Homo sapiens: one gene and its partners. The protein of the gene in region 3 interacts with the protein of the main gene of each other region in a pairwise test. Each region holds a gene or a part of one and is shown on either strand. Other genes may lie near its edges. The genes, in order: NPHP1, JADE1 and NPHP4.

The links.
Region 1: the proteins of NPHP4 (region 3) and NPHP1 interact in binary tests that used the Homo sapiens proteins (3 or more experiments, as listed by UniProt).
Region 2: the proteins of NPHP4 (region 3) and JADE1 interact in binary tests that used the Homo sapiens proteins (3 or more experiments, as listed by UniProt).

What each region holds. Positions count from the first base shown.
Region 1 is NC_000002.12:110,203,454-110,207,205, reverse strand, and holds the start of NPHP1 (nephrocystin-1), read left to right. Parts: upstream 1-2,192; 5' UTR 2,193-2,237; coding exon 2,238-2,306; intron 2,307-3,752. UniProt on the Homo sapiens protein: Together with BCAR1 it may play a role in the control of epithelial cell polarity. Involved in the organization of apical junctions in kidney cells together with NPHP4 and RPGRIP1L/NPHP8. Does not seem to be strictly required for ciliogenesis.
Region 2 is NC_000004.12:128,861,668-128,865,419, forward strand, and holds part of JADE1 (protein Jade-1), read left to right. Parts: intron 1-36; coding exon 37-558; coding exon of another isoform or gene 559-585; exon of another isoform or gene 586-2,965; intron 2,966-3,752.
Region 3 is NC_000001.11:5,866,819-5,870,570, forward strand, and holds part of NPHP4 (nephrocystin-4), read right to left. Parts: intron 1,079-3,752; coding exon 922-1,078; intron 298-921; coding exon 212-297; intron 1-211. UniProt on the Homo sapiens protein: Involved in the organization of apical junctions; the function is proposed to implicate a NPHP1-4-8 module. Does not seem to be strictly required for ciliogenesis. Required for building functional cilia.

The DNA of each region.
Region 1 (3,752 bases), on a different chromosome or scaffold from region 3:
TACCTCACTGCAGATCTCTCTTGTTTTAGGTTATGTTGTTTTTTATAATGGCATCAAGGTATAACTACAGAGGAGCAATGACTAGTATTAATGTGACTGTCCTGAATATTACAGTTATTAGTGAAAAATCATTAGCTGAGTAATCATATCATTTATAGCACACTGAATACCTCAGTGGTACTTCTCAAACTTGAATGTGCACATGAAACACTGGGGTATTGTTAAAATACAGATTCTGATTCTCCTAGGACTGTGGTGGGGCTGAAAATGTGAAAATGTGCATTTCTAACAAGGTCCCAGGTGGTGATGATGCTGATCTAGGAATCGCAAGTAATGAATACTTGTAACCGAAACAATATGATGCAAAAATGTATAAAGTCAAACATCTTCACACCTGAGGTGAATGAGTAATACACTTTTTTTGCACCTTTCCTTATTGTTCATATATTCACACATATTTAGGGGGGGTTATTAGTTTATTTTTACCAACAGAATTAAACTGTATCCATGATGCTATTAACTTTTCCATTTAAAATGTGGAAATCCCTATAAATAAGTAGATGCAGAATAATTTTTTCTAATTTATTTGTAGACTGAGAATTTCATAAGTAATAGCTGTATTTTAGAGCAATTTTTTTCGTTTTGCTCATCTCATCACCTGTAATTATTGATTTAATAATCCACTTAGAAATATTTTATAGCATTTTCTCATTTGTTGTAAAGATTTTTAATGGAAATCCTATGTTTGACTATTTAAGTGAACTAATTATCATAAGCCATAATAGAGAAATTAATTCAAAATAAGACATGAATTACAACAAAACAGACAATACCAAATCTTGCCAAGGACATAAAGAACAAAAACTCATACACTGCTGATAGGGTATAAATTAGTACCATTTTGGGAAACCAGGTAGTAGTATCTACTAAAGCTGACGTATAACATGCCTGTGACTCAGCAGTGTTATGTGTTTGCCAGAAGACTTGCACCAGGACGTTCTTAGCAGCGCTATTTATACTAGCCCTAAGCTGGAAACTGCCCACTTACCCAGCAACAGTAGAATCAGTATGTTAGGGTATATCATATGTGAAATATCAGCAATGAGAATGAACAGACTACAGACACACACAGTATAGATGCATCTCACAAATGTGATATTTAAAGGACAGGAGAAGCCACCACACAGTGCATAATTTCATTGTATAGTACAAAAAAAGGCAACACAAGTTTGTGCTCTTATAAGTTAGGATATTGTTCACCTTTGGTGTGTGGTAGAGAAGTGAGAGGGTTGAGAGGTTGGGGGTAGGCAAGGACTAGAAAGACAGGAAGAGTGTGAGTGGGCAGATAATGTTCTGTTTCATAATCTGGGTGCTGTTATGGGGTGGAGGGTTTTCAGAGCTGCACACAAAGTCTGTAGACTTTTCTCTGTATGTATTATACTTGAAGAAAAAAGTACATAAATAATGGTTCATCCTGGCCTGTGGCTGTTCTGAAGAACATTCATTTGTATTAATGGGGTCCATCATTTGGAAGGTGAGCCCCAAGCATCATCATTCTTATTCAAGTTCAATTTTGGTGTAGTGGAGTTTTGGAATTGGATTCATGGGATGCAGTCCCATATGGGGGAAACATGACAACCTTCCTGAGAGTTGATGTAAACTGGGAATCATAATGAGAACTAATAATTTGCTCATAGATTTGCTGTAGAACAATTACCATCCTTACAGAATTCAGAATTGACAACGTGCAATATTAGAATGAAATGAAACTTCAGTAGCCTAAATGGCAAAGAATTAAAAACTGCCTTTTGAAGTGACAGTATGGAACAGAACCATATATTCCATAGGAAAGCTATCCTTGGAGTTAATGAAAGAGTTTAAGATACTAAAATTGTATCTTAACATTAGCTTACAAAATTGGTATCAGAAAGCAAATGCCATAAAACAGGTATCCCAGCAAGAAGGTGGTGTTATTATTGATGTATTGTGGGGAATGTAGTTTCAGACGCCGGGGGACGTTCCCCTATCCTTAGGAATTGCCGAGGAAAAGTGACTCCCCCGGCTGTGACCTGCCTGGTGGCGTGGGATGACCACCGCAAGAGAACATTTGACCCTTCCCGGGACCGGCCCGGGCGGGGCGGGGCTGGGAGGCGGGCGCACATCGATGGCGTCACCTTCTGGCGCCGCCGGTTGGTTTCCCTGGCAACTGGAGCAATCAGAGCACCGCAGCCAGGGAGATGCTGGCGAGACGACAGCGAGATCCTCTCCAGGCCCTGCGGCGCCGCAATCAGGAGCTGAAGCAACAGGTATGGTCAGGCTGTGCAGAGGGCCCTGGGGCGGGCGACAGGCGGACGCAGCTGCGCGCACTGCGCCTTCCCACCGTGACCCCACCTAATCCTGGGAGCTTGCCCCCAACCTACTTACCTTCCCAGGTTGTAACGCCCCCTTACCCCATAACATTCCAGCACCCAACCCCGATTCAAACCCCTCCTGATCCCAACTCAACCCCCAGCCAAAGGCGAAACCTCCCAAAATTCGTGACCATCAACTAAGCGCCCCCTCCTCCGACCCTCACTCCCACCTAACGTCTCAACCTCCTACCCTAACAACTCACTAACCCACCTTATCTCCCAATCTAAACTTAGTGGTGTAACCATTTCCAACCCAACTCTGAGCCTAGCTCCTCTCCTCCACTTTCCAAGCCCATTTCCTTTCAGCCTTCCTCAAGTGGAGATTATTATTGCCTCCGTGAACTCAAGCGAAATAGGTGTCAAGAAATAGTCTTAATATGCAAGAACATTAAGATCTGATAAATGAGCAAAGGAGGTGAACGAGAGAGGAAATACAAGTAACTCATAAACATACGAGGAATGTTAACTTCAAAGATACTCAAGTAATTGCAAAGCACATAAGGTATCACAAAAATGTTAAAAATCACAACACTCTGTCTTGAGGAAGGTGTGATGAAGCAGGCACATTCACTGCTCCCGTGTATAAGGTGCTTGTACAGCATTTCAGGAAAGCAGCTTGACAAGGTGTAACATATGTGTATGCACCTAGGCTCAAAAATTACATTTCCAGGGATCTGCTATGTGTAATAATTAGAAAGTAGGACAGAGATTGATGTATAAAAGTATTCATCACATTGTTACTTATATAATATACACAGAACAGCATAGAAGGGAACAGGCTAATATGGTATTTCTGTGTGACAGGATGCTGATGATTATTATGATTTTCTTTATTCTTTTTCATATTTATAAAAATTTTTAGGCCAGGTGTGGTGGCTCATGCTAGTAGTACCAGCTACTTGGGAGGCTGAGACAGGAGGATCACCTGAGCCCAGGAGTTCGAGACTAGCCTGGGCAACATAACAAGACTTGGTCTCAAAAAAAAAAAAACTTTTTAAAAATACACTGAGTTCTTATTAAAAATAAGAAAAAAGTAAATAGCAACCAGTGGGTTTATTTTCTGACATTTTAATTTCACTTTAATTTTTTTCATGTGATCTATTACCAAGTATTTTTCCACTGAGTAAAATTATTTTATAATCTGAGGCCGGTAAGAGATTCACTGATGCTCATATTTTATCCATTTTTGTTCTCTTGTTTAAAGTAAAAAGGATTTGGAAGGTAAATATTTAGGTGACTGTGTATTGGAATCACAGTGGTGCAACAAAAGCTAAATACTCTTCTGGTAGAAATAAAAAATAAAACTTGATGGGGCATTGACTTATGCTGAACTTCGGTGGA
Region 2 (3,752 bases), on a different chromosome or scaffold from region 3:
TGGTCTATTCTCATGTTCTTTGTGTGTTCTTGACAGTGCTCTGTGAAGAACTGCCGCACAGCCTTCCATGTGACCTGTGCTTTTGACCGGGGCCTGGAGATGAAGACCATCTTAGCAGAGAATGATGAAGTCAAGTTCAAGTCCTATTGCCCAAAGCACAGCTCACATAGGAAACCCGAGGAGAGTCTTGGCAAGGGGGCTGCACAGGAGAATGGGGCCCCTGAGTGTTCCCCCCGGAATCCGCTGGAGCCCTTTGCCAGCCTTGAGCAGAACCGGGAGGAGGCCCACCGGGTGAGTGTCCGTAAGCAGAAGCTGCAGCAGTTGGAGGATGAGTTCTACACCTTCGTCAACCTGCTGGATGTTGCCAGGGCTCTGCGGCTGCCTGAGGAAGTAGTGGATTTCCTGTACCAGTACTGGAAGTTGAAGAGGAAGGTCAACTTCAACAAGCCCCTGATCACCCCAAAGAAAGATGAAGAGGACAATCTAGCCAAGCGGGAGCAGGATGTCTTATTTAGGAGGCTGCAGCTGTTCACGCACCTGCGGCAGGACCTGGAGAGGGTAATGATTGACACTGACACCTTATAGTGACTTAGAGAAGAAGATGCAAAGAGGCGAACGCTCGCCCAGAGCAAGAAATGATAGCCAGTCATATACTCTCAGACCCTTGTACACACCACAGCATGAGGTTGTGTTGGTTAAAAATATTTATGGGCTGGTAAACTCATTGTACATATGTGCAAAACTGCTACTGAGTGGGGAGCTTCTTTGTGGTTTTTTTTTTTTTAAAAACACTTTCCCATTAATCTTTACTGTTTTGTAAGATCAAATGGGGTGTGTCTTCCCCACCCCCATTCCTTCATTCTAGAGCTAGAGTGAATGAGCCCCAAGAAAATGACCCAAGGAGTTGACTCAGGATGGTTTACAGACTGATTTAGAAAACCAGAACGGATTTCATTTCTAATGGAGGGGGCCAGAGATGGGAAAATTTCTTGTTCAGTCCGGGGAAACACACCTAGGTGCTGGTGATGGGCTTATGAAGGAAGCTAAGCACGGCTGCTCACTGGCCCCCACTTTGTTTCTTGGGTAATTCACAGGGGAATTCCCAGTACTGTCATGGAGCAGAGCAGGCAGTGGGTGCTGATGTGTGTGCATGAGCTGTATGTACACATGCATATATCTGTTACAGAAGATACTCCTGGCAGTGAGGTGCTAAGTCATCACTGAGGCTGTGTGTGTGTGTGTGTGTGCGCGTGCCCGTGTCCATCCATGTCTCTGTTGTGTGTCTGTGTGCGGGTATGGGTGGGATTCCTGGTGGACAGGGGTGTCAGATCTGTCTGAGGAGCCCCAGTCATGCTCAGCACGCTACAGATGTGTTGTTTGTCACACTGAGATTGCTGAATGTCGTGGCTGTTGGCTGCCGAGCCTCAGCTGCTGGCATTTCCTTCTGCTGTTTGCTGCTTTTGTGCCTCCCCCACTTTCCATCACCTCTGGAGTCCCGTCTGGACGTCCCTTCCTGCTACAGGAATAATGAGGCGTGGGCTGCCTCCCGCTAGGGCCTCCTGCTCCCTGTAGGTAGTTTCTGGCTGAGGCTTGCTAATTGGGGATGCTTCTTAGAGCATCTTCCACATCAACTCCCCTGGCTGCTGGCTACCGATTAAATTCATTAGTGTGAAAGAGGTGGGAGTGAGGTTTTCTGGCCTGAAGCAGTCTGCACTGAAAGGTACCCAAGTGGCCTGAAACAGTGTAGGGAAAGACCTGGGAAACACTGGACCAAAAAAGCCTGATCTCATGGAGACCTGCATGGCCCTGTTAGAGATGGCGTAGAAGTGAAAGTCTTAAAGGGAGCATTAGAGATCCTTTTAATACACGACTGAGTGCCAGCTTATTTGTGATGCCCCTTCCCAGACCAGGTTAGGATTCCTGGGAAGGCCGCGGATTCCGGCCCTGGAAGAGGCAGGATCCTGGAGCAGTTTTGTGAGGCTTTTGTGCTCCCATACGCCCCCTGGTGGTGAGTGTAAAGAAGACTTTGCCTCTCACAACTACATGTATGTGTGGCATTTTTGTTAGAGATGAGAAAAGGATTGAGAAGGATAAACTGGAATCCTGGTAAGAAGCCTTTATGCCAGCCCGACACCTGCTGTAATTGGGGTGCATGAGCTATGGAGTCAGATAGTTGTTGGGAGGGGGAGGACAAGAAGTCTATTGTTTGGACTGTGTTTGTCTCACAATCACCACAAAATAAAAGTGTAGAAAATGCTTGTGGTGTACTAACTCTTTTCTGTACTTAAGTTACTCAGATTAACATGCACTTCTAATTCTAAACATTTTTTTTGGAGTCATCACTGTCGCTGTTTAAGTAGAACAATGCCAACGATGTATGAGAAACAGGGAATAAATCAGGATTTGTGTGTGTATGTGTGTGGCATTACTTACATTTACTTTATTAAAAAGCCTAAGGAACTTTAAAGAATTTGTATTCAGTTTATTTTTATTTTTTCAAGACAGAGTCTCACTTTGTTGCCCAGGCTGGAGTGCAGTGGCGTGATCTCGGCTCACTGCAGCCTCCGCCTCCCGGGTTCAAGTGATTCTCCTGCCTCGGTCTCATGAGTAGCTGGGATTACAGGCGTGCGCCACCATGCCTGGCTAATTTTTGTATTTTTAGTAGAGACGGTTTCACCATGTTGGTCAGGTTGGTCTTGAACTCCTGACCTCAAGTGATCTACCTGTCTTGGCCTCCCAGAGTGTTGGGATTACGCCACTGTACCCAGCCTTAGACTCAGTTTAAAATGGGCTTATTGTAATGAAAAAAAATACGCTACCCAAAATTTGCCATGATGCCTGTGATGGTGAAGGCATTAAACAATTGAAATCTTTGCCTTGCCCAGAGAGTTGCAGTTATTTGTAATTATAAACAGTAAGTGTATCAGGGCAGGGGTGACAATAAAAAACCAATCATTACTACCAACTTGTTTTCTCAAGTAAGTTAGTTTTCTGTTTAATTCACACAATATCAGTTTATAGCAGATCCTCAAAAATCATTTAATACCTGTGACTACAATCAAGGCATATGATCATTCTCAGACTGACAAATAAGTAGCCATCATTAGAAATGCAGACAACTGAGTAATTATGGTGACTGCTCTTCCTTCAGACACACACCTCGGGGCATTGCATACCTGGGTACCAGTTCTGGATCTGGAAGTTAGGTGACAGGAGTAGATTTCAGGAGGGCTTGGGAGCACACAACTTTAAGAAGACACAGTTGCTGATGTGGTGGGTAGCCATGTCATTCCCAAGGCTGCCACTTCACTCTCATTCCTTTCCCCTAAAAGATGCAGTAAATGTGAGTTCAGCAAATGAGTATTTATTCAGATAAAGACGTGCTACCACTGCACTCTGGCTAGCGTTATGGAAAGTGGCCAAGTCCTGGGGGCAGTCCTGTAGTCACTCAGTGGAATGGTCACCTTTGAAAATCTGGTAGTGGCTACAGTGTCCCCTGAACAAAAGGCACGTTCAACTTTAGTGCTGCAAACAGTTTTGGATTCAAGAAAACACTGAAACCACTTTTAGATGTCTTAGAGCAGTGTATCTCAGGGTGTTGTCCCTGACCCAGAAACTTAGGAATGCAGATTCATGGGCCCCACCTCCAAAGGGTGGTTCTGTTTTGTGGGTACCCCATGTTTCTGTTTGGGAACACTGCTTTAGGGGAAAGGGATGATCAGGTTTAAGGTGGTGTGAGAGTGCACCTGGAG
Region 3 (3,752 bases):
ATCAAGGAGCTGATCTGCTAGTAGAAAAAATAAAAACACACTCATAAAGCTCTCATAAGGATGTCAAAATAGCCCTTTAGTACCTTGGGAAAGAAACCACTTAGCAGAAAACCTAAAATGAAGAGGATCCCAGGATACCCGTGGGGAAGCCGACAGGGGCGCAGACTCACTGGGAAGGATCTGCCTGAGCTGGGGCCACAACACAACCTACCACATTCTGGGTCTCACAGATGACGTTCGGGTCGCTGCAGCGAACATGGACTGGGGGGTCCTCACCAAGCATTCCCACCGGAGCACCTGGAGCAGGGGAAATGTCAAAAAGAGTCTTCTCCACAGCCCCAGCCTGTGTGGAGAAGGCCCCACACATTACACACTATAGGACAGGACAGGCTCGTCACAGGTGCTCAGCAAGACACCTGCTGGGGAAACGGACGCCGCCACCTTTCCCAGGACAGCATCCAAGCACTGTGTTCCCTGCATGGACACCGCCCATCCAGCCCACTGCGGCTCGGCTGCAGCCATCTCCACAGGGAATAATCGAGGGGGCCACAAAAAAGAAAACACAGCTCCCTGGAGCAGGGAAGCCTGCACTCTGCTGTAAGGGGCACCTACCAGAAACACGCGGGCCGTCAGGTGAGGAGGTAGGTGTTCCTCCAGGCACACCTGGACCTGGGCCGCGGGAGCTGGGATTTTTTAGAAGGGCAGACTCAGCCGGCAAATGCGCACCTAGTCATCTCAGAGGTGGCAAGAGGGACACCGTTTCAAACCATAAAGGCAGGAGAGAGAATTCCCCAGGCCCCACGTGCTGCTCTGACAGCACCAGGGCATGAAGCCATGAGGCCATCTGTCACCCTCAAGAGGTATCTACTTCCAACAGGTGAGCCTGCAACATGTGGGCTGCAGGGTCAGTGCAGGACCTGCCTGGAAATGTGTGCCAGGGCGGCAGGCGGATGGCCTTCTTCAGGAAGGAGAGCTCCGGGTGATAGAAGCGGAAGACCTGGTCCACCACGTGGGGCTGCAGCTCCACAGTCAGGCAGAGCACGGCGATGGGCTTGCCACCACTCGCTCGGAACAAGACCTGTGAGGAGGCCACGCTGAGTGTTGGGATGGGCACGAGGCTTGTGAGCAGCTTCTTGTCCCTCCTTAGACAGCACACGTATCTCCACTGTTGCCAAGACCCCCTCACCCTCCACTGCCATGAGCGGGGAAGGTCGGGCATCGTCAAAGGCAGGGACTGAGTCTGCAGCAGCAGGTCTCCACCAGGAGGGGACCGCTAAGCAAGGTCTGGGCCGGCACCCACACAGGGCACCCAAGCAGCCACACTGCCATTATTCCTCGCGAGTACAGCACACTTCTTAAATGCCAGTGGAGAAGGTCTGCAGTCCCAAGTCAAAACTACTCCTGCCATGATCCCACCTCCCGACACCCTGTGTGCATGTGCGCAAGTCAGGCCAGGAGGTCCTGGAGTGGGTGGTGGCAGGGCCAAGTTCGCGGTCAAGCACGTCAGCACAAGCTCTTTGATTCCAGATGGCAAAAAGAGGCTGTGCCTAAACCAAAGGGGTTAGAAATAGAAACTTTCCTGGTTTCAAAAGAGCTACTCATTAAAAACCATATTGTCTGAAGAGGTATTAATTGGGACAACTGATAAAAAGGCTATATTTGTTTCAAGATACACACAACCACAGAGACATGCATACTCACACACACGCACCCACACACACGCATGCACTCATGCACCCACACATGCACCCATACACATACACATACATGCACACCCACATGCATGCAGGCACACGTGCACACACATGCAAACATGCACCCATGCATGCACACACGCATCCAGCCACAAATGCACACACATGCATGTACACATATACATGCACGCATGCCCCACACACACACATGCACGCCCACATGCATGCACCCACACATGTACACATATGCATGCACCCACATGCACACACGCACACAATGCACACATACATGCACACACATCCACCCACACATGCACACACGCACCCACACACGCATGCACACACATACATGCACACATGCCCCCACACGCACACATATGCACGCCCACATGCATGCACCCACACATGTACACACATGCATGCACCCACATGCACACACACACAATGCACACACACATGCACACACATCCACCCACACATGCACACACACGCACCCATACACACACACATGCACACACATACATGCACACATGCCCCCACACGCACACACATGCATGCCCACATGCATGCACCCACACATGCACACATGCATGCACCCACATGCACACACGCACAATGCACACATATCCGCCCACACATGCACACACACGCACCCACATGCACACAATGCACACATACATGCACACATATCCACCCACATGCATACACATCCACCCACATGCACACACACACACACACACATGCACACCCACATGCATGCATGCATCCATACATGTACACAGATGCACAAATACAAACATGGATGCACATACACACACACCACCCACACATGCACGCACACACACACATGCATGCACACACACATGCACACACTTCACACCTGCACACACTGAGAAGGAGAGAGTGGGGCAGGGCAAGAATGGAAACAAGATCCTTCCAAATATATCTTGCTTTATAGTTTGATTTTTGACTTACTTGTTTTTAATTTTGAAAACTAAAATAAATAGAAGTGTTAATGTATTAAAAATAAACAAATCTAAGCTTCTATCAAGTTGGTGCTGTAATTATCCAGAGAAGAATTCTTTAAGTAAATGTAAATCACAGGACACAAAGGACCTAAAGACAAATGCACCTTCAGAAATCTTGCACTGACAGATAGTGTCTAGCCCTGGTTGGTACTGATGTTTTGAAATATACACGTACATAAAGATGGCCAGTGGTATTGTAGCCAAAGGGATTTGGCCAGTGTGGTCAGCAGATTGGTTATATACAGAGGAAATTAGGCAAATAAGTAAGCCAAATGCGAGCTAGGTTTCTCATGAGCAGAAATGAGAATTACAAACATGGAAAAAAACAGGAAGAAACCCGTGATGTTAAATTGGTGTTGGAAGAACTGCTGCAAATTCATGGTCTTCAGCACACTAGAAACAGTAGTCTGTGCACATACACGCACATATCTATACATCATATATGCATGATATGCACATATTGTGTATGTATGTATCTGCACCCACAGGCATACACCTCTTAGGTCTCTGCTGAGAGGGACTTAGCAGCAGTGACATCCCAGTAGTACTGAGTACATCTAACGCTCAAATCTTGGTTTCTAAATATCATTCTCCAACCAAAGGAACCCGAGCTAAATAGCTGACACTCCTGAAATGCAAGCTGAGCCTGGGGCGTCTTGCTGTGCTGGGCAGTAAGGAAAGACTCAAAGGAGGACAGGGGTGAATCAACAGGACGCAGGAGCTGGCCTGAAGAGGCTGCCCTGGTTAGTCAGGGCACGAATATGAGCAACAAAATAAATAATGATAGTAACAAAATGAATAAAATAGAAATTCATTGTTCATAAGGATATAAAAAGTAAATAGGTGAATGGGGTGAAGGCACAGCTCTACCTTACTTAAAATACCAGTAATCAACAGAGAAGGAATGATGGAATTGGAAAATCCATGGCAGGCAAGCATCCCACTACCAACCAACTCGGGCCAGGTCATCAGTGCACACTGACACCTAGTGCGTCAAAGTCTGATGAAGAATAGGGTATTTGAACGGCCT